Linked DNA regions of Homo sapiens. The protein of the gene in region 2 interacts with the protein of the main gene of each other region in a pairwise test. Each region holds a gene or a part of one and is shown on either strand. Other genes may lie near its edges.

Region 1 (6,416 bases), on a different chromosome or scaffold from region 2:
TGTTTTTGAATTCCAGAAGAGGGAACGATGATTTTTCAGTCAAAAGGCCATGAGAGGAGAGAGAAAATATAGGGGAAATGATCTGTAAATCAGGCCTTGAACGAGGAGGAGTTTCAAAGTAAAACAAAGAAGAAAAGGCATCTCAGGAGAAAGAAACACAATGAACATGGACAAAGAAGTGTGAAAGTGCAGGCAAGTGGTCCAGAGTGGATCAGATACTATAACCTCCGGTGGGAGGGCTTTCATATTGTGCAGTGTGTAAACTGAACAATTATCCATAGCAATCCTGGTGTAAACTGAACAATTATCATAGCAATCCTGGTTGAAGGGAGTGGTTAGGGCCCACAAAAGAAAGAAGCGAGAAGTACAAGGGCCTTAAGTGGGAAATGGCAAAAAGGAATATGAAATGAAAAAGACTGTTATTAAACCCTAAGCATTATTCAGTAAGCCAGGGCTGGCATTTATTTCAATATGAAATTTCAAAATTATATCAGCCATTTGTACTCAGTGAGTGACAGCAGCACGTGTCTTTATTTATAATGGCAGGGCCAAATATAAACACAGTTTTAAGTTAGTGTATTTCGCATAACATTCCTTAATGTCTTGAGAACATGCAAATGAATTGGACAAAAATCACTGAATCATCTATAGGTTTTTTTTATTAGAAAAGAAATTAAGTGTTGTCACTAGAGATTGAAGGAAATTAACAATCTTACAATTCTAGAACAGGCAAACTTCATGATAAGGGATTCTTAAGTTTTCAAAGTGTAGGAGCTCTTTCACAGATACACTCTTGGTGTAGGGGGCTGTAAGTTTTATCAGATGTTTTACATTTCATGCTTTAATCTTTGCTGGTAGTCTAAATAAAATAAATACACAGTGTTCAGGATTATCTGGATAGCCATCTTAAATAACAGAGTGTTCCGCATGACCACAGCCTCTGCACTTGTGCCTCTGATCCATATGACACCAAGACCAACTATGCTTTTCATATGATTTCTCCAATTGGGTCCTGTGACCTTTCACAGAATTGTTGAACATTTCCTATGAGATCTGTGGAGGACAAGGTGGAGAACACTGGTTCAGAGCAGTGATTTTCAAGGTGGGATGGGATGGGGTGGAGTTGAGTGGAGAGATGCATGTAGTTAGAAAGAACACATTCAAAATACCCACTGATTTCATAATACAAACTCCATAAAGTCAAGCAGCAAAATGATTTTAGCTAATGGGCAGTAGCAGATAACCAACTGTGGATTCATCATTGTGGAGAAGGAGTCTGGATAAACATAGTTGAAAAACACTGGCTTAGAGGTAGAGACATGCCGACACATGGAGAACAGTAAGAAACGCATGCCAAAGAGGACAATTGAGGGTCAGTGAGCGAATCCTGGGCCAGAACTTGTCACAGTCTTCTGAAAACCAAAGAGCACATCCAGAAGAAAACCAAGATGGCCCGTCAACCTTCTTGGCCCTGTGATTAAGAGCAAGTTGGTCCACTTTTAAATACTGAGCCAAAAGAGGAAAAAAGCTGTTTGTGCCCCCAAATTCATCCACCAGAAGTGCTGTCATCATTTGCAATGCCATCCAGCTCTTGAGGAGGGACGTCAGCATGGGGCCTGTTCTGCCAGGAAAGAAAGAAGGGATCTCCTTGTAAGGCAAAATCCTTCCTTTCTCTCATTACCAGAACACTTACACCTGCCATTTAAACACACTCTGTTGCAGATGGCCTTGAGATGCAGCTGCCAGTAAAATACTGACAGCATAGAACACTGAAGGAAAAGGCCAAATGCAAATAAGGAGACTTTCTGAATATGGGGGACTCTAATGCCCACACCAAAATAGAAGCAGTTGGAGAAATAACATTTCCCATCTTCTCTCATTCTTAATCTAAGCCTAAATTGCTAAACATGTCCCAGAATAGGAAACCATTAATTGGGTTTGAGTGCTTTTAGTACCAGTGGTAAGGCCAGGAAGTGAACTCAGACAGACATAGGGTGCACCTGCTGTGATGATATCGTAGAATTCTGATTAGAAGATTTATAGCATTGACTATTTCATTTCAGAGAAATCAGTGGTATTTTTTCAGACCTTTTTCCCCCTTCTGTTGCTATGCTGAGTAACCATCACAAATAATGTATACTCATTGCCCAAGAAATGAGTTATTAATTAGCAGGCAATAGATACCCCTCCAAGAACATTTTGGTTAAAGAACCATTCATTTCTCCCTCAACTAAAGCAGCATTTACATCTCTCTGGGTACAGGTCTCTGAATTGGCCTGCTTGGGAGCTAGCTAGCGCTAGCTGTGCTGGGGAACTGGGGGAGGGAGGAGCTCAGACTCCAAAACCATCACGGTTCCCTTCTGAAATGTTCATCGCCCTGTGGTTTTCCACAGAGCCAAAGATCTCCTTTAGGTTACTGATTTTAGAAAACTTTGTTTTGGCTTTTGGGAAGCCAATTAAATAGAGTTGATTTGCCAAGTGAACACAGGTAAAGCCAAAATGACCTGTGTTTCACATTGCGTTTTGAATAAATCCAAATTGTTTACCATGGCCTGGGTGCTCTGGCCCCTGCCCACCTTTCTCGCTATTCTTCCTTTTCACTGCACTTCATTCACTCTATTCCTGCTTTCTTTCTGTTCCACGAACATCCCTTACCTGTTGCCACCTCAGAGCCTTTGCACTTGCTATTCCCTCTGCCTGAAAAGCTCTTCTGCTTCATCTCTGCATAGCAGTCCCCTTGTTAACCAGGTCTCAGCTCAACCCTTCCTGAGAAAGGCCCTCCCTTACCATGTTAGCTCAATTTTCTCCCCACCCCATGACATATTCTGTCACATTATTCTATTCTATTTCAGGATTTGCTTGTTTTTGATCTGTCTACCTCTCTAAAATATAAGTTCCAGGTTATCATTTTATGCATCATTATATTCTCATGTGTCTGGCACATGCTTAATAAATATTTCTTAAATGAAGCTTGAGTGAAAGGATTTCTCTCATTGACACGATCTCTTTGTAAAGTGTGAAATTCATAAGTGATTGACATCACCATTCCTCAACTCACCCCAAATCATTTCTTCCCCCAACCAGAATGCTGTCATACAGTATAACAAACCACGACAGAAGAATTCCACGGTCTCCCATGTTCCTGGCCCAGCACCTCACCTGCCACTCACCTGTGGTTACTGCAGAGCTCCAATCTGCTTTAGCCGCGTCAGCAGTTCCCCACTCTGTTGCAAAGAGACTAGATCACTGCATCCGCCTATACAATCTTTACCAATAAAGACTCGAGGCACCTAAAAAAGCACACGACCCAGGACATTACTACATTACTAGATTAGACAGAACATTTCTATCCTACCACTAAATATTTCCCGTGATTCCAAACTTTTCAAATCACTTTAAAACCTCCTTATGTATATGCTCACAGGACAGGACTTCCTTTCTGTTATAAGGGGTAACATTATTAACTCGAGAATGTTTTTACGCCAGAAGAGTTTTCAAGTTGTGTGCTATGCATGAGCTTGTCCAACTTGTCAAAGGGATTTAAAAATTTCACTCTACAGAAACATGTTTCAGAAGGAGAATTCTGATTGGCTGCAGTCAGACCACCTAGATTGAACTCTGCTTTCTCTGCATCAGGGACCACACCTAAGATTGTAAACTGGGTCACAGCAATCAGGAAGGAAGGAGTTCGTTTCTAAATACAGCTGGAAAAGTATTTGCATTACGTCTCTGATTTTTCAGGTCCATGGTTTATTAAGTACAATCATCTCTCTGTGTTGTTAAAACACAGGTGAGGGCCAGGCACAGTGGCTCATGAATGTAATCCTACTACTTTTGTGAGGCTGAGGTGGGAGGGTCGCTTGAGCCCAGGAGTTCAAGACTAGCCTAGGTAACATCGTGAGACCCCGTCTCTACAAAAAATACAAAAATTAGCCAGGCATGGCGGTGCATGCCTGTAGTCCCAGCTACTCAGGAGGCTGAAGTGGAAGGATTGCTTTGGCCCGGGAGGTCGAGGCTGCAGTAAGCTGTGATGGTGCCATTGCACTCACACCTGGACGACAGAGCAAAACAAAGAAAGCAAAACAAAGCAACACAAGTGAGCTCTGTCCTCAACCAGGGGGGTGTAGTGGTGTTTGAGTCTCCTTTAATCGCTGGTCCATCATAAGATGGTTAACTCACCCCGGATGAGGGTGCGTCACCCACGCCAAGCCACAGTCATGACACCTGCTGAATAGGCTCCTCTCTAGTTACACACTTCCTCCCTGCTGCTAGGAGCAGACACATTCCAGAATTCCAGAGGGCTTTTAGAATCGCGAGGGAGGAGGAAATACCCTCAACGTGGCTGAATTTATAGGCCAGGAGTGTTCCACCAAGGCTGCCTGGCAGTGAAGAAAAAAGCCCCATGGAGGTCACCGCGTCATCAGAGCCAGCGGGCCTCTCCCCGAGTACCAGGAACGCACTGGAGGGGAGGGAGAGGTGGAGGCAGAAAGCAATGAGACTATTTTTCAAAGCTTTGGGCTTTCCTCAGAAAGCATAATAATTGGAGCAAATTGTCCAAAAAGTGAGAAAGGTGAGAAAAGGGGCTTCATTATTGTGGATAAGTTCTTACAGCACTTTTATTAAAAAGGGGGTCTGGGTGAAGGTAGGCATTAAAAATAAAGTCTAAAAATTAAAAACAAATCTTGCACATTTCCATGGCTATTCCCTGTGCTCTCACAGGATAACTGAGGCTTTGAAAACCCACAGCCCTGGAGCTGCCCCCCAGCCTCCTGAGATGACCCTGAAATGTGACCAGGCTGCTCCCAGCGTGGAGTTTTGTGCTCAGTGTCTGGCAAAGAAGCGAAAGGCTCCTTTACCCTCACACCCATCCTCTAGTCTGGACAACTGCAAAACTGCCATAAATCGTATCAGTGAATGGTACCCCTAACGGGAGCTGAATGGCAGGCTGTACAGACGGCACGGGGGTGCTGTGGCAGTGAAACCAAAGCAAGAAGTACTGTTGATAAAGTTGAGCAAAGAAGAGGAAATACCCTGTGCTGCTTCCCCTCCTGTCCCTTCCCGTCCCAGCCTCCTCTTTAGAGGAACTTGAGAGTCCGCTACTGTCAAGGAGAGGAAAGAACTGCCACCCCAAAACGAGTTTGGTAATCCTGTGGTTCTTATTCTCCTGCACTAGGTTTCCCCAGCCTCAGCCAGGCAACATCTCCTGTACGCTAGCTAGGGTTACACAAATGCAACTACTCAAAAGCAATTTCTCAACACTCCTCGGCTACCTCCCTGGTATAAGCCACCTTCATCTGTCACCTGAATAACTACTATAGCCTCCCAATGTCTCCCAGCTTCAACCTTCACCTTTGCCCTACTGTCTCTTCTCCCCACAGCTGCCAGAGTGGCCCTTTCAAAATGGGGTCAGATCAAGTGACTCGTCTGCTCAGCACCCACCAGGGGCATCTCATCTCACACCGAGTACCAGTCACAGTTCTTCCAAGCTCCTATTAGCTCTCAGACCTCACCTCCACTAACTCTCCTACTGGCTCACAGTGCTGCAACTATACTGGCTTCCTTACTATTCCACAAACCTGCCAGGCAAACGTCTACCCCAGGACCTTTGCATTCACTCTACCTGTAAATTGTGTACACCCATCTCCCTCAGCTCCTATAGATATCTGCTCGAATGTTCCCTTCTCAGTGAGACCCAATGGCTCCATTTAAAACTGGACCCTGATGCTTCCTCCCTACCTTTCCTACTTTTCCTCATAGCACGTGCCACTTACCAACTCCCAACATACTGTTTTATTACTGTATTTGTTTGTCTCCCCCACTAGAATATAGGTTCAACAAAGGCAGAAGGGTTTTTTTCATGGCAGAAAAGGCAGAATTTTTTCCCCAATGTACATAAAAGTGTCTGGTACATAGTAGGTGCTTAAAAATATTTGTTGCATCCAGTAAAATCATCATTCAAATGCGAAGGAGAAATACTTTCTAAGGTAAACAAAACTTGAGGGAATGTGTTACCAATGGAATCACCTTGCAAGAAATGCCCAAAGAAGTTCTTCAGAGAGAAGGGAAATGATATAGTTCAGAAACTCAGATCTATGTAAAGAAAAGTGCATTAGAGGAGAAATAAATGAAGGCACTAATTTAGGAGCTGTGACTATAGCAAAACAAAAACAGGTTTTACCAAGTACATGGCTTGATTGAAGCCACTAACTTTCCATAATCATGTCCTGCTGATTACCTACTAGATACAGCTACTTTATAGAATAATTAAGACTGCAGGATCAGGCCGGGCGCCGTGGCTCACGCCTGTAATCCCAGCACTTTGGGAGGCTGAGGCGGGTGGATCACGAGGTCAGGAGATTGAGACCATCCTGGCTAACACAGTGAAAACCCGTCTCTACTAAACATACAAAAAATTA
Region 2 (7,038 bases):
GGTGTGAGCCACCACGCCCAGCCATCTCCTGGGGTGTTATGAAGGTCCACTGAGCTGAGTGATTGTGCAGGTGCCCAGGACAGGTCCTGGAACACACTAGGTGCTCAGCAAGGCACTCTGCTCATTCACCCCAACTGCCCCATGCTGTGTTTAGGACAGGGGGCTGGGCTGTGCTGGGACATGCCCCACCTAGCTCTGGACCATGATAACCCATGCCTTACCTGGGTGGATGTCCTGGAACAGGGACTTCCAGATGGTGTACTGCAGGGGGCCTGTGTACTTGGAGGTCGGGAAGTCTTCATATGTGAGGTTGGTCTCATGGATTTTTCCCTTGAGCCTGGAAGGAGAGCAGGAAAGGGGGCTGCACCAGGGACTGGATTCCTGCCCCAATGCCAGGGGCCCCGCAGCCACCTTCAGGGCAGCTGGCATAGGATGTGGTCATGAGTGAGAAGTCTGTGGGACTCAGATTCAAGTGCCTGCTTGTGCTGCTTCTGGCCTCTCTAACCATTCCCTCAGTCTTCTCATCTTTAAAATGGGTGCTATGCTAGCATCAGCCTTCTAGGCTTTTTGTGAGAATTACATGGCATAACATATACAGATGCTCAGCACAGTGCTCGGTCACGGTCAATGCCAAATTCATGATCTTAGCAATCAGTATTGATCACCAACAAACCAATGACTAAGTGTTATTACTACTAAGGGAAGATTTGGGGTCACAGAGACCTAGGCTTGAATCCTGGCTTACCAGTTACCAGATGGGGGGCCTTGGCCAACTGATGTAGCTTTTCAGAGCCTCAGTTTTTTTCTTTTTTTTCTTTTTTTTTTTGAGACAGAGTTTCGCTCTTATTGCCCAGGCTGAAGTGCAATGGCGCGATCTCAGCTCACTGCAACCTCTGCCTCCTGGGTTCAAGCAATTCTCCTGCCTCAGCCTCCTGAATAGCTGGGACTACAGGTGCCTGCCACCACGCCCGGCTAATTTTTGTATTTTTTTTTAGTAGAGACGGGGTTTCACCATGTTAGTCAGGCTGGTCCTGAACTCCTGACCTCAGGTAATCCACCTGCCTCGGCCTCCCAAAGTGCTGGGATTACAGGTGTGAGCCACCGTGCCCAGCAGGAGCCTCAGTTTCTACATGCATGAAATGATGATGACAGTGGTAACTACTTTCAAAGGGACTGAGAGGGTTACAGTAATATAAAGCCTTTATATAGTAACACGTAATGCCAACATTATCATAAATAAAATAATATGTAATATATTTATATTATGATTGTAAACACTATTAAATGCTACCTACTATCTATAATGTATACAGAATATATTACATATATAATAATGTAAATATATGAAGTCTTTATTCCCAGATCCTTTCTCTCCTGCACCCCTAGAGCCAAGACAGCAGGGTCAAAGTGGCTGCCCTCTAGATGGTTTTCAAACTGTGTTCCTCACCATTGCTGCTGCTCCTCTAGTTCAAGCCTCACTGGCTTCATACTCAAGGCTTCATGCTCCTACCCATAGCAGATGTCCCGTAAATGTTTGATGAAGATTTGAATGAAAGAATTCTCTGCTAAGGATCCCATCTGCCTCCACTCCCACTGCCCAGCATGGGTCGAGGAGGGGATGGTCAGCCGGGGAGGGCCCCGGCGGGTGGCACTTACCGCTCGGACAGTGAGGCCACCCCAGCCAGGAAGGTGTGCCGGTCGGTTTCAGCCAGCCGCTCCTGCAGGATCTGGGCTCCCTCCTGGACCTTGCGCAGCTGCTGGCTGTAGCGCTGGACTTTCTGCTCGATGTCGGTCAGCGTGCGGGCCGTGTCCGCCTCCAGCTCCTCTAGCATGGCCTTCTGGCGTTCACGCAGCAGCCGGTGCAGCCGCTCGAAGGCCTCGCCGATAGTGGTCCGCAGGCTCTTGGTGGAAGACTGTGGGGGACAGTCGTCAGGGGTTATGGCTGGGGGAGCAGATGGGGTGATCTCTGGGTGAGAGGAGGAAATCGAGAGCCTTGACACACAGAGAGGAAAGGGTGGGAAAGGGCACGCGTGGTGGGGGAAATGTCACATGCAAAAGCATGGTGGTAGGAAAGGATGGGCATGTTCTATGTGGTCCATTAAATAGCTAATGAAATGGCCCAGGTGAGAAAATGAGGCCTGAACTAGAGGAGCAGCAGCAATGGTGAGGAACACGGTTTGAGAAACATCTAGAGGGCAGCCTCTTTGACCCTGCTGTGTTGGCTAGAGGGGTACAGAAGAGAAAGGAGCTGGGGATAATGCCCAGGTTTCTGGCTTGGGGGTAGGAGGGATGAGGGAGCTGGAGTGAGGGCTAGGGGACAGGGTGAAGATGTTCTCTCAAGGACATAGTGAAGTCTTTATTTTTTTTGCTTTTATTATTATTAGTTTTTTGAGATGGAGTTTTGCTCCTGTCACCCAGGCTGGAGTGTGATGGCACGATCTCGGATCATTGCAACCTCCACCTCCTGGGTTCAGGCGATTCTCCAGCCTCAGCCTCCCTAGTAGCTGGGATTACAGGAGCCCGCCACTATGCCCGGATAATTTTTGTATTTTTAGTAGAGATGGGGTTTCACCATGTTGGCCAGGCTGGTCTCAAACACCTGACGTTAGGTGATCTGCCCACCTTGGCCTCCCAAAGTGCTGGGATTACAGGCGTGAGCCATCGTGCCCGGCTGAAGTCTTTATTTTAAAAAAATCATTCATGGGGCTCATTCAGGGGGCTCAAGGAAAGATGACAAGATCACAGACATCAAAGAGCTTTGTAAATTGCAACGTATTGAGAAAACCTTGGTGGTTACTCGCTGTCTCCTGTTACCTCTAGGACCCTCTGGCTAAGGAGCAAGGACTGGTGTTTATAGACAGGATCAGGGAGGTAAGCATGAACTTTCATGGTTTTCTCTGCCCCCAAGGGCACTGTGAGGCTCAGGAAGGGTGAAGTAGTGAAGGGCACAGGTTTGGTGCCTGACAGTCTGCGTAAGGACTCTAGCTCTGGGTCTCTAGCTATGGCAACGTCAGTTGCCTAAGAGCTGTGAACCTTAGTTTTCTTATCTGTGAAAGGAGTAACAAAAACTGCATTGTAGGATTGTGGTGAAGATGAAATGAGGGGGTGTTGTTGTGCGCACTCCAAGGCGCAGAGAAAGAGCCTGGTTATTGAAGACTGCAATTCTAATAAGCGTTTCCCGGAAGTCTTCATTGAGAGACGGGTTCTGAGCCGGGGCCTGAGGGATGGGCAGGATGTCAGTTGGGGGTCAGGGGAACAGGCAGAGGGAGCCGCATGAGGAAGGGCTTAACGTCAGGACGACACGGGCTATAGAAGTGCGGCCAGGCTGCAGCAGCATGTGGGGCCTGCCTCTGCAATTTTACTTTGTGGGATTCTGGCTGGGAGTTCATGGAGTCAGAAACCCCACTGTGTTCAGTGCCCAGGGCTCTGTGGGAGGCTCTACAAAGGCTCAATTAGGGCCTGTTCCCTCCCCGACGCGCGGCTGCTGGCCTGCAGGAAGAACTGCTGGCGGTGGGCCAGCCTCGCTGCGCATGCCCACCCAGAACGCCAGGCAGACAAAGGGGGGCGGACGAGAGTCTGGGGATGCACGGCCAGGCTGCCGTGGCCTTCCTGAGCCCCCTCACCCGGGGAGGGTGGAGGCCTCTGCAGCGGCATGTTGCTGATGGGGAAGATGGGGTCCGTCGTCCCTGCACCACCTGGAGCTGCCCTCCACAGGCGCCCAGACTCCGCAGCTACTCCTCTGGCTCCTCCTAGACCACTCTGCAGCACTTAGCCCACTCGCCACCCTCTCCTAGTTGAAAGTTCTGCTTTGCCTCCCATCTCTGTGACTGCTGCCTCTCTGCCTCCCATGTTCCTCGGGGCTCATCCAGGTCAGCGCCTTCCATCCTCACCCTGAACACCTGCCCCCATTTTCAACTTGAACTGCTTTAAGGATGGTTCCCAAGTCCATATAGATGGCCTTGCCTGTCTCCTGAGTGCCACACCCATTTTTCCAACAGTCTCCCCAACACATCCCTCTGGGGTCCCACAGGTCTTTCCAACTCACTTGGTCTACAAGTCAACTCTTGTCTTTGCCAGCAAACTCACTGTCAGAGTGATCCTTCTAAAGTGCCAACTGAATCACAGATGATCCTGAGTTTAGGAACCTTCTTTAGCTCCTTGACACATAGTAAAATGCTGAACTCTTTAGTCTGGCATTCAAGGACCTTCTCAATTTAACCCTAGCTTACCTCCCTAGCGCCACTGCATTGCAACTCCACCTGCCTAGAATGACCCTACCCAAACCCTGTATTCAACTGGCAAACTCCTACTCATCCTGCAAGACCTAGCTTGAAAGTGACCTCTTCAGAGATAACTTTCCTCTCTTTCAGGCACTTGGATGTTCCCAGAGCCTTTTGTCAACAGTCTTAATACATTGTCCCACATTTTCTGTCTCCCTGGCTAGTAAGTGGGCCCCTGCTGGGTAGGAATGACATCTCCCTCGGCTCTGCACCCCTGTGCCCATCCCAGAGCCTGGTACAAGGCTGGCAATCAGGAGTTGCTTGAGGGGTGAAGGAGGGAAGAGTCTTGTCTGAGATTGCTCCGTAGAGCTGGGTGCAGGCTCCAGCTTCTTTCCAGGCTGGGGTTTCAATGTCTCAAGGACGAGAGAGGATGGGAGGGAAAGGGGGGAAGGCAGGGACAGGGCAGCCAGCAGTGGAACATCAGAGTGACAGCCACCCCTGGAGCCCCAAGTACATTCCCGATGAGTCCTACTGACCTACCTGGCTTGCTGACTACAAAGCCATAGCTCTTGCAGGACACCCCAGGAGACATCCCAGCTGCACTATGCACTGGGCTCTGACAGGACTGGATGGTAAGCTCCCAAGTTGCCATTTTCTAGCTGTGGGACTTCAGGTTGGTCCCTCAACCTCTCTGTGCCTCAGTTGCCTCACTGATAAGATTGAGATAACAACAGTTCCTACCTGGGACGATTTTTTTTCTTTCCTGTTTTTTTGGTTTTTGTTTTTGTTGTTTTTTATTTTTTTGAGATGGAGTCTCACTCTTGTTGCCCAGGCTGGGGTGCAGTGGCTCGATATTGGCTCACTACAACCTCCACCTCCTGGGTTCAAGCAATTCTCCTGCCTCAGCCTCTTGAGTAGCTGGGATTACAGGCACCCACCACCATGCCCAGCTAGTTTTTGTATTTTTAGTAGAGACGGGGTTTCACCATATTGGCCAGGCTGGTCTTGAACTCCTGACCTCAGGTGATCCGCCCGCCTCAGCCTCCCAAAGTGCTAGGATTACAGGCGTGAGCCACTGTGCCTGGCCGATTTTTTTTTCCTTTCAATCACTTTTTTTATAACTACTTATTGTGTGCCAGACACTGTGCTAGGTTTTAGGGAATCCTGCTCTCGTGGAGGTGACATTCTGTGAGGTTGGCAGGATAATGAAGAGGAACACAATTCTCAGCACAGAGAAAAGTTCTGCTCAACTGGTGCACCCCATTTATTCTAGTTCTTTCCAGGGCAGAGTCACCCTTTCCCCAACCCCCTCCTTTCAGCTCTGTGGCTGGGGAAACAGCCCCCACCCCAACCCACCACATCCCTTGGAACACCCTAGGGCCTGGAGGTGCTGGGGCCCTTTCAGAAAAACACCCTGCCAAGAATGCATCACCCCGCCAGGGCGCCGACCAAGGAAAACAGAGGGCCTGAGGAGGGAGATCAGACAGGCCCTCAGGCCAGGCCATTGGAGGGGCAGGCGCAGCAGGAAAGCCGAGTCAGGCACCAGGTGAAATATGACCTCCAAAGCATCCATAGGCATTTCTTGTATAAACACCCCAGTCCAGACAGGAAGTGGGGCTGGGGGAACTCGAGGGGGATGTGGCCCCACAGGACCCCCCAGAGGCAGACAGATGGACAGGAAAGCGGGGGAGGAAGAGGTCAGTGGAGAAAAACAAAGAGGGTGTGGGATGTGGAGAGAAGAGAGTGCTGCTGGGGAGAAGGAACAGCCCATAATACTCCGCTCTCATACAGAGAGAGGCTTCCATTTGCTTCTCATCATCCAAGAGGTACAGAATCACCAGACAGTTGGGGAAACTGAGGCTGCAAGAAGCAATGAGGCCAGCATCCTGTGACTGTTTATCATCTGTTGCCCCCGAGGGTCCTGCCCAGAGGCACTCTGGAATGTTCTGTGAAGAATTGTTTGTCATGACCTTCCTGAGACCCCACAGTGGGTTGGTGGCCAAGCTGGGGCATAGATCTGGGTTTCCAATGGTGTCTTCAGGCCCCAGGATGACCTCCAGAGGCCCAGCGCATTCCTAAGGCTCTGCCGCAGCTCCTGCTGACAGAGCGGGGTCAGCCTGAAATCACCCCAGGCCTCACGACACAGAGTCACTCTGTATAGTGGGGACTCCACCCGGCACCTTCCAGTCCCAGAGTGCTGGACTGAGCCTGGCAGTCCCCACTGGACAGATGGGAAGGCTGGGGACCCAGGAAAGCATGCAATTTACCCAAAGTCACACAGTGAGTTAGTGGTGGGATCAGAACCCATGTCCTTCTCAAGTCAGTGGAAAAGTCTGTTTGTTTGTTTGTTTGTTTGTTTCCCAAACCACGGTAGCCAGAGACTGCAGAGTTTGGCCCTACCTTTCAGAGTCTGTATCCCATGGCCTGAGCTTAAGGGGAGATGATACCAGGGCTGGGCCACCTCTGGAGGGCTTCGAGGGGACATGCTCAGGATTGACTCCTAGGCAATGGGCTTATTCATTCATTCATTCATTCATTCATTTTAGAGACAGGGTATCACTCTGTCACCCAGGCTGGAGTGCAGTGGCATGATCATGGCCTACTGCAGCCTCAAACTCCTGGGCTCAGGCAATCTTCCCATCTGTCTCAGTCTCCAGAGTAGCTGGGACTACAGGCATGTGCCACTACGCCTGGCTATATTCAATTTTTTTTTTTTTTTTTGTAGAGAAGGCATCTCGTTATATTGGCCAGGCTGGTCTCAAACTCCTGGGCTCAAGCCATCATCTTGCCTCGGCCTCTGAAGAGACTGGGACTACAA
Region 3 (7,038 bases), on a different chromosome or scaffold from region 2:
GATGGTCTCGAACTCCTGACCTCAGGTGATCCGCCCTTCTGGGCTTCCCGAAGTGCTGGGATTACATGTGTGAGCCACCACGCCCGGCCGATAAACTATTTTACCGCGAGCATAGGTGAGCAAACGTGCACAATAGAATATTCGCCCATGAGTAGTCCCCAATTTGCTAAGGAAAAAAAACCATTGGCCCTCGCTTCACCCTTCCTCTTCTCCTTTTCTCACCAGGACAAAATTTCAAATCCAACTTTTATTTATTAAATTAAAAAAAAAAGACTCCACAAAGGGCATGATCCCTTCCATTCCACAATGTTCTCTCCCCAAGCTCCAGCGGCTTTAACCCTTTAACTTGGGGCCTTGAGACAGCAGGGGACAGAAAAGGAGGATCCAACGTTACAGGAAAGGCACGAAGCGGCTTTAAAAGTCACTGGAGGTGGAGATGGGAGCATCCAAAGTCCCAGGGTGGGGGTGCGTGGATGCACCACCAGATCAGCTTGGGGGCCTCTGTCCTCCTAGCTCTTTAAGTTCTTTCTCAGGGCTTCTAGGCACCAGATCTAGCATAGTGCCTTGCACAGAGTAGGCACTCAATACATACTTATTTGAATCTGATCCTAGAGAAAGCCTTCCCCACCCATTCTTCAGGAGGTGCACCCCCAAACCAATGTCCTCCTGTTAGATGGGCTTCCCCAAAGAGCACATCTAAGATGGCAGCTGCAAGCTCTCCATAACCATGGCAACAGGGGATTAACCTGATGGGGTCATGGTGTCTAAGGGGTGGGGCAGTGGAGGAACCTGCTCTGCAGTCAAGGGAGATGGGGTACATTCCAGTCCTTCTCCCCTCCATAGGACTTGAGGTTTCACAGCTTCTGGCTGGGGCTGGGGATATTAGGGATCCCCCTAATCAAGAGATACCCCATCAACTGTTTAGCAGAGATGTAGCTAACCCAATTTGTAGAGACTTCATTACAAGAGAAACCCTATCAACTGAGATTCTGATGATAGACATTCTATTAACAAGATCTTCTCCACTAACATTTTGTCTATACAGAGATGCATTTGACTAGAATTTCCTTAGCAGAAATGGATCCACTTCCCTCCCCAGCTCACTCTACCTGACCCGTCATCATAACTTACATAAATAGAATTATTACTATTCATTACTCCTGGTACATAGGGGTTAAATATACAGGCCTGGGGGCAGCCTCCCTGACCCTGGGGTCACCCCATCTTTGGGATCAGATCCCCACTGGTCTGCCCCCCTCTTGGCACCCTCTGGCCAGGTCACTAACCCCAATACCCCTGATGAAGAGGCCACCAGGGGGCAATAAATTATCATTATCATTGTGTTTGTAAAAAGGAAAAAAGAGTTCTGGAGAATGGAAAGCAATGGTGTAAGAAGTTGGGAAGACTGAAGCCTGGAGGCTGAGGGACAGCAGGAAATAAGCTTGAGAAGCAGAAAGGGGTACATGTCAAGGAGTGAGATGGAGAAATAGTGTTGGGAGCCCAAATAGAAAGTGTGTTGGTGTGGCAGGGCCAGAGTCTAGGAAGCCGGAGTGCAGGTATCAGGCACAAGGGGAGGGCCTGAGATGAGAGTTTGTGGAAAGCCAGTCTCATGGTGAAGAGAGAAGGTGAGCTGAGGAGGCATGCAAGGAGATACCCAAGCCCAGAATGGCCAGGAGGGAGACAGAGGGAGAGAGCCCCGAAGGATGGCATGCATGGGGTAAAGAGAGTGATTGGCAAGCAGTGGTCTAGAGAGCCAAGAGAGACTGTCAGGGCAGCCCTGGGGTGGGAGACCTTCCACCCGGCTCAGATCTCCAGCAAGTTGCTCTGCTCAGGGCTGCCTCCAGGGGCTTTCTCTGGGGTTGCTGGCGAGGCAGAAGGTCGGGGCGTCTGACTGGCCTCCTCTTCCCCCGTGCTGCGGCCCTCCCCCAGCTCCTTGGGGCCACTGGGAGGGGGACCCGGGCCTGGTTCTCCATGGGTGCGCTGGTGTTTGCTCAGGTGGTCGCTTCGGGTAAAGCGCTTGGAGCAGAGCAGGCAGGTGAACTTCTTCTCCCGGGTGTGAGTGCGCACATGACGCTCCAGCTCATCCGAACGAGTGAACCTCTTGCCGCAGAAGAGCCAGTTGCAGACGAAGGGCCTCTCGCCTGTGTGCCAGCGCAAGTGGGCCTTCAGGTGCGAAGCCTTGCCATACACCTTGCCGCAGCCAGGGATGTGGCAGCTGTGGATGGGCTTCTTCCGCAGCCCAGCCGCTGCTGCTCCCAGCCGCTCTAGCTCCTGGCAATTAGGGCAGTCGCAGGAGGAGCGCCCTGCCCCACTGCCCCCATATCCACCACTACCCCCAGTGCTTGCACCCCGTGGGGGTTTGGCTCCACCACTCCCTTCTAGCTGCCCACTATTTCCCACTGCCTTGGGTTTATAGACATCTTGGGGCAAGACATGCTGGGGCCCTGGTTGCAAGAGGTGGGGAGCTGGGTAGGGGGCTGGATTAAGGGGAGCAAAGTCAGATGGGTAGGTGGGCAGCTGGGGGTTCAGTGGAGGCTGAGCTGGACCTGTGGGCAGTGTCCCTTGCAGCCCATCACCCTGGCCCTGCCCACCACCTAGCCAGTTGCCTCCAGGGTGCATATCCCACCATGGAGTAGGAGTGTTGCCTGGGCCTGGTGAAATGCCTGCATGGATGCCTGCCTTGTACCAGGAGCCATAGGGGTGTGTCATGTCCAGAGAGGTGTAGACACTGGGCAGACAGTCAGAAGAGCTGTGCCCCTTGGGCACTAGTAGCCCAGGGTCCTGGGTGCCTGTGGGCCCAGGGAATGAGTGGGAAAAGGGAGGGTAATCATTAGCATAGCCTGAGGTGGGTGCTGGAGGACTGCCTGCAGGTGAAAGGAGCCCATTAGTGCTTGTAAAGGGGGCTGGATAAGCATCCCCCATGGTTTTGGAGGCTGAAAGGTCACTGCCCACAGAGTACGGCTTCTTTGTGCCTGCTTTGCCCAGAGTTGTTGAGTCCCGCAGAGGGCTAGAGCCACCAAATTTGCTGCACGCTGCCGTCAGCATGGCCAGGGGACTGGAGCCATAGTGAACTTCCTCCTGTGGAAAGAGGGACGCACTGCTTAGGGAGAGGGGAGGAGAGGTACAAAATGAAGGGCAACACTTTAGGACTGAGACCTAGAGACATCCACAACAGAACAGAGGGGTCAGGGAAGAGTTGAAGAGGGTGGAGAATTACAGGTAAAAGAGGTTAGCCAGTGAGGGCTGGACCTCAGGGCAGACTCATGGAGTCGTGGGAAGAAGAACAGAGGCCCAAGACTGCAGCTCAGTATCCCAACCCAGAAGGCAGGAAGCAGAGCTCATTCTGGAGTTGCTAGGGGTGTACTAGGGGCCTCCAAGGAACAGGAGGTTCTTTTTCTTTTTTTTTGAGATGGAGTCTCGCTGTTGTCGCCCAGGTTGGAGTGCAATGGTGTGACCTCGGCTCACTGCAACCTCCGCCTCCCGGGTTCAAGAGATTCCCCTGCCTCAGCCTCCGGAGGAGTTGGGATTACAGGCACCCACCACCACACCTGGCTAATTTTTTTGTATTTTTAGTAGAAACAGGGTTTTGCCATGTTGACCAGACTGGTCTCAAACTCCTGACCTCAGGTGATCCGCCCACCTCGGCCTCCCAAAGTGCTGGAATTACAGGCATGAGCCACTGCGCCCGGCCTTTTCTTTTTATTTAAAAAAAAAATTATTTTTTGAGACAAAGTCTTGTTCTGTCACCCAGGCTGGAATGCAGTGGCCCAATCTCGGCTCACTGCAAACTTTGCCTCCCAGGTTCAAGCAATTCTCCTGCCTCAGCCTCCCACATAGCTGGGATTACAGCCGCACGCCACCACATTGAGCTATTTTGTATTTTTAGTACAGACGCAGTTTCACCATGTTGGCCAGGCTGGTCTTGAACTGATGACCTCAAGTGACCCAAAACTCCTGACCTCAACCTCCCAAAGTGTTGAGATTACAGGTGTGAGCCACCGCACCCAGCCAAAAAAATATTTTTAGAGACAGGGTCTCACTCTGTCTCCCAAGCTGGATGGAGTGCAGTAGCACCATCACAGCTCACTGTAGCCTCAAACTTCTTTCTGGGCTCCAAGCGATCCTCCACCCTCAGCCTCCAGAGTAGTTAGGACTACAGGCACACACCAGGGGCTCTTTTTAAATGGCTGTGAGAAGAACTGGGGATAGAGACAGCAGCTAGGTGAAGTGAGAATTGGGGATCCTGACCCTTGGAAGTAGGTTTGGAGCAGATCGAGGCCATGGGCAGGGCCTTGGAGAGGAAAGATGAGGCTCAAAGTGCAGTGTAGGGAGAAGGTCAAAGTATTAGGGGACTATATTTGCTCCCATGACAGATTTTCCCAGCTTCATCCCATACCCGATATTCCATTTCCTGTCGCTGCTTCAGCTCCTGACTAAGGCAGTGGTCTTGTCTCCCTGAGGTCCAATCCTCATGTCCCTGCTAAGGAATCTCTTGGCAGAGACTCCGGCTGGAGAGCAAGAGGAAGTGATGGTGGAGACACTGGGACATTGAGAGGGAACAGGGCTGCCGCCAAGCCCAAACTGTGGCTGAGACAAGAATGCCTTTCAAGCAGGCAGTGAGCACCTCCTGCTTTGTGGTGCCAGCTGGTACCCCTTTGAGAGGGCTGTAAGAGCCCAAAGTCGTCATGCCCTTCCAAGGCAAGGAATGGGGTAACTAAGATACTGGCCCACAGCCACACTGCTTCATGCCTCAGTGTCCCCTAACATGTAGTCCTTCTAGCACTGTGAATGAAGGAAGACATGGATGTAGTATATGGGAGTCTTTTAGAAATGCAAGGGTATCTTCTAGCCAGGCGCGGTGGCTCACGCCTGTAATCCCAGCACTTTGGGAAGCTAAGGTGGGTGGATCACTAGATCAGGAGTTCAAAACCAGCCTGGCCAAGATGGTGAAACCCCATCTCTACTAAAAATATAAAAAAATTATCTGGGTGTGGTGGCAGGCGCCTGTAATCCCAGCTATTCGGGAGGCTGAGGCAGAGAATTGCTTGAACCTGGGAGGTGGAGGTTGCAGTGAGCCAAGAAGGTGCCACTGCACTCCAGCCTAGGCTACAGAGCAAGACTCCATCTCAAAAAAAAAAAAAAAAAAGAAAGGCAAAGGTATCTTCTTAATGCCCACCATGCTGCTGCTACCAGGCCAAACCACTCTCAAGATCTTTACCTCTCAGGAACTCATGGTTCCTGATGGTGCCTCTCCCTGGGTGAGGCATCCAAGGAGGAAATGCCCTATAGCATCCCTGGCTGGCATAGACGGTCATTCATTGCTGGGAATCCCACCAAAAAAGATGCCCTCAAAATCTACCCCTATACAGTTATATGGGTATGAAAGGGCTAGAAGAACAGTTTTGAGGATTGGGTTCTTCATAAACTCATATGGGCCTGATCCTTTCCCAGTAAGGCTGAGAAAAGAACTCAAGAATCCAGAGTTCTCACACCTGTCTGGTAGCTCTTAGCATGTAGTATGTGTACGATGCCAATCCGAGAGGTGGGCCTGGGGCCCTGGGGTTGCCATGAGGCATGTGTGCAGTCCCCACTTCTGCGCTACACCCCAAGTGCAAACCTGCTGCTCTTCCTGCACAGTTGCCTCTCTCTAAGGTCCCGTTGACTCCCAAACTGAGCCACCAAAAGTTTTCTCCAGTCTAACCACAGTGAACACTCACGGTTCCCCCAGTCAGGGTTTCCCGGGAACCCCTGATCTTCCAAGCAGCGGGTGAGCTATGGCAGGGTAGCTGATGGGGAGGAGTCAAATCCTAGCAGAAAGAAGAGGTAGAAACATGGAGTTCAAAGCAGAGAGGCAGATACCCAGAGATATGGGGCACAAAGGACCTGCATAGGGTAAGGGATTGACAAAAAAGACCCATAGCAATGGGGGAAGGAGGACCTGAGAGGAAAAATTGGCATTGAATAGCAGAAATAGCTATAATTCCAGCACTTTGGGAGGCCAAGTGGGGGAGGGTTGCTTGAGGCCAGCAGTTTGAGACCAGCCTGGGCAACATAGTGAAACCCCATTTCTATAACAGATTTTAAAATTAGCTGGGCTTGGTGGTGCATGCCTGTAGTCCTAGCTCCTCAGGAGGCTGAGATGGGAAGCTCACTTGAGCTAAGTAGTTAGAGGCTGCAGTGAGCTATGATTGTGCCACTGCACTGCAGCCTGGGCAACACAGCAAGACCCTGTCTCAAAAACAACAGCAACAACAAAAAAGAAGCAGAAATAGGCAGGGACCTAAAAGACCAGAAAGGTAAAAAGACACAAACTAAGAAGGAGAGATGATGGAAAAGAGACTGGGCTAGAAAAGCAAAGGAAAGCAGAGAAGAAAAGAAAGGAGTGGAAAAAAGAAAAGGGGGAGGAGGAGGAAGAAGGCGGCCTTCCTACCTAAGAGAAAACCACCATGGTGCTGGGCCCCAGAAAACCCCCAGACCAGGCCACTCCTCCCTTCTTCTCCCCCCTGACCGCCCCCTCTCCCTCTGCCCAGCCCGGCTCCGATGGTTTCCCTGCGGTCGGTTTATTTTTAAAAACGCCGACGCCGTCCCCCGCCCGGCCCTCACACTGCGGCCACAGGGGCCTCAGCCAAGCCCAGGGACCCCACCCAGCTGTGGGGAGGGAAGGAGGGGTGAAAGAAGGCAGCCAGCCCCAGGCCAACAGGAGACCCCAGCCCTGGGGAGTGGAGGCCCAGAGGGCCCTCGAGGGCAGGGAATGGGGAGCGAGGAACCAGACCCACTCAGAATGCTCTGGGGGCTACAGGCTGAGCACGTGGCTAAGTTTCACCACAGCCTCAGTTTCCTTCTCTTGCTGATTGTTCTCTCCTGAGAACTTGGGGAAAGAGCACTGGTTAAGAGTTCTAAACATGTGTCCCCATACCTGATCAAATGTGTTCCCTTTCCAGGGCCCAGCAGTCCCACCTTCGAGTTGTTCCCTCCCGACCTCCACCCCACCACCCTTAAAACAAAACAAAACAAGACAAACAGAATTAAAGTATTGAA

What was found. Proteins that work in one complex are often made in the same cells at the same time.
Region 1: the proteins of TRIM62 (region 2) and GLRX interact in binary tests that used the Homo sapiens proteins (3 or more experiments, as listed by UniProt).
Region 3: the proteins of TRIM62 (region 2) and SP7 interact in binary tests that used the Homo sapiens proteins (3 or more experiments, as listed by UniProt).

The regions. Positions count from the first base shown.
Region 1 is NC_000005.10:95,813,337-95,819,752, forward strand, and holds the end of GLRX (glutaredoxin-1), read right to left. Parts: intron 3,291-6,416; coding exon 3,177-3,290; 3' UTR 3,171-3,176; exon of another isoform or gene 3,160-3,170; intron 1,622-3,159; exon of another isoform or gene 1,054-1,621; 3' UTR 513-1,053; downstream 1-512. UniProt on the Homo sapiens protein: Has a glutathione-disulfide oxidoreductase activity in the presence of NADPH and glutathione reductase. Reduces low molecular weight disulfides and proteins.
Region 2 is NC_000001.11:33,158,032-33,165,069, forward strand, and holds part of TRIM62 (E3 ubiquitin-protein ligase TRIM62), read right to left. Parts: exon of another isoform or gene 2,935-7,038; coding exon of another isoform or gene 2,821-2,934; intron 1,914-2,820; coding exon 1,657-1,913; intron 338-1,656; coding exon 222-337; intron 1-221. UniProt on the Homo sapiens protein: E3 ubiquitin ligase that plays a role in antifungal immunity by mediating 'Lys-27'-linked ubiquitination of CARD9 downstream of C-type lectin receptors; leading to CARD9 activation, followed by activation of NF-kappa-B and MAP kinase p38 pathways.
Region 3 is NC_000012.12:53,326,343-53,333,380, forward strand, and holds the end of SP7 (transcription factor Sp7), read right to left. Parts: intron 3,079-7,038; coding exon 1,804-3,078; 3' UTR 233-1,803; downstream 1-232. UniProt on the Homo sapiens protein: Transcriptional activator essential for osteoblast differentiation. Binds to SP1 and EKLF consensus sequences and to other G/C-rich sequences.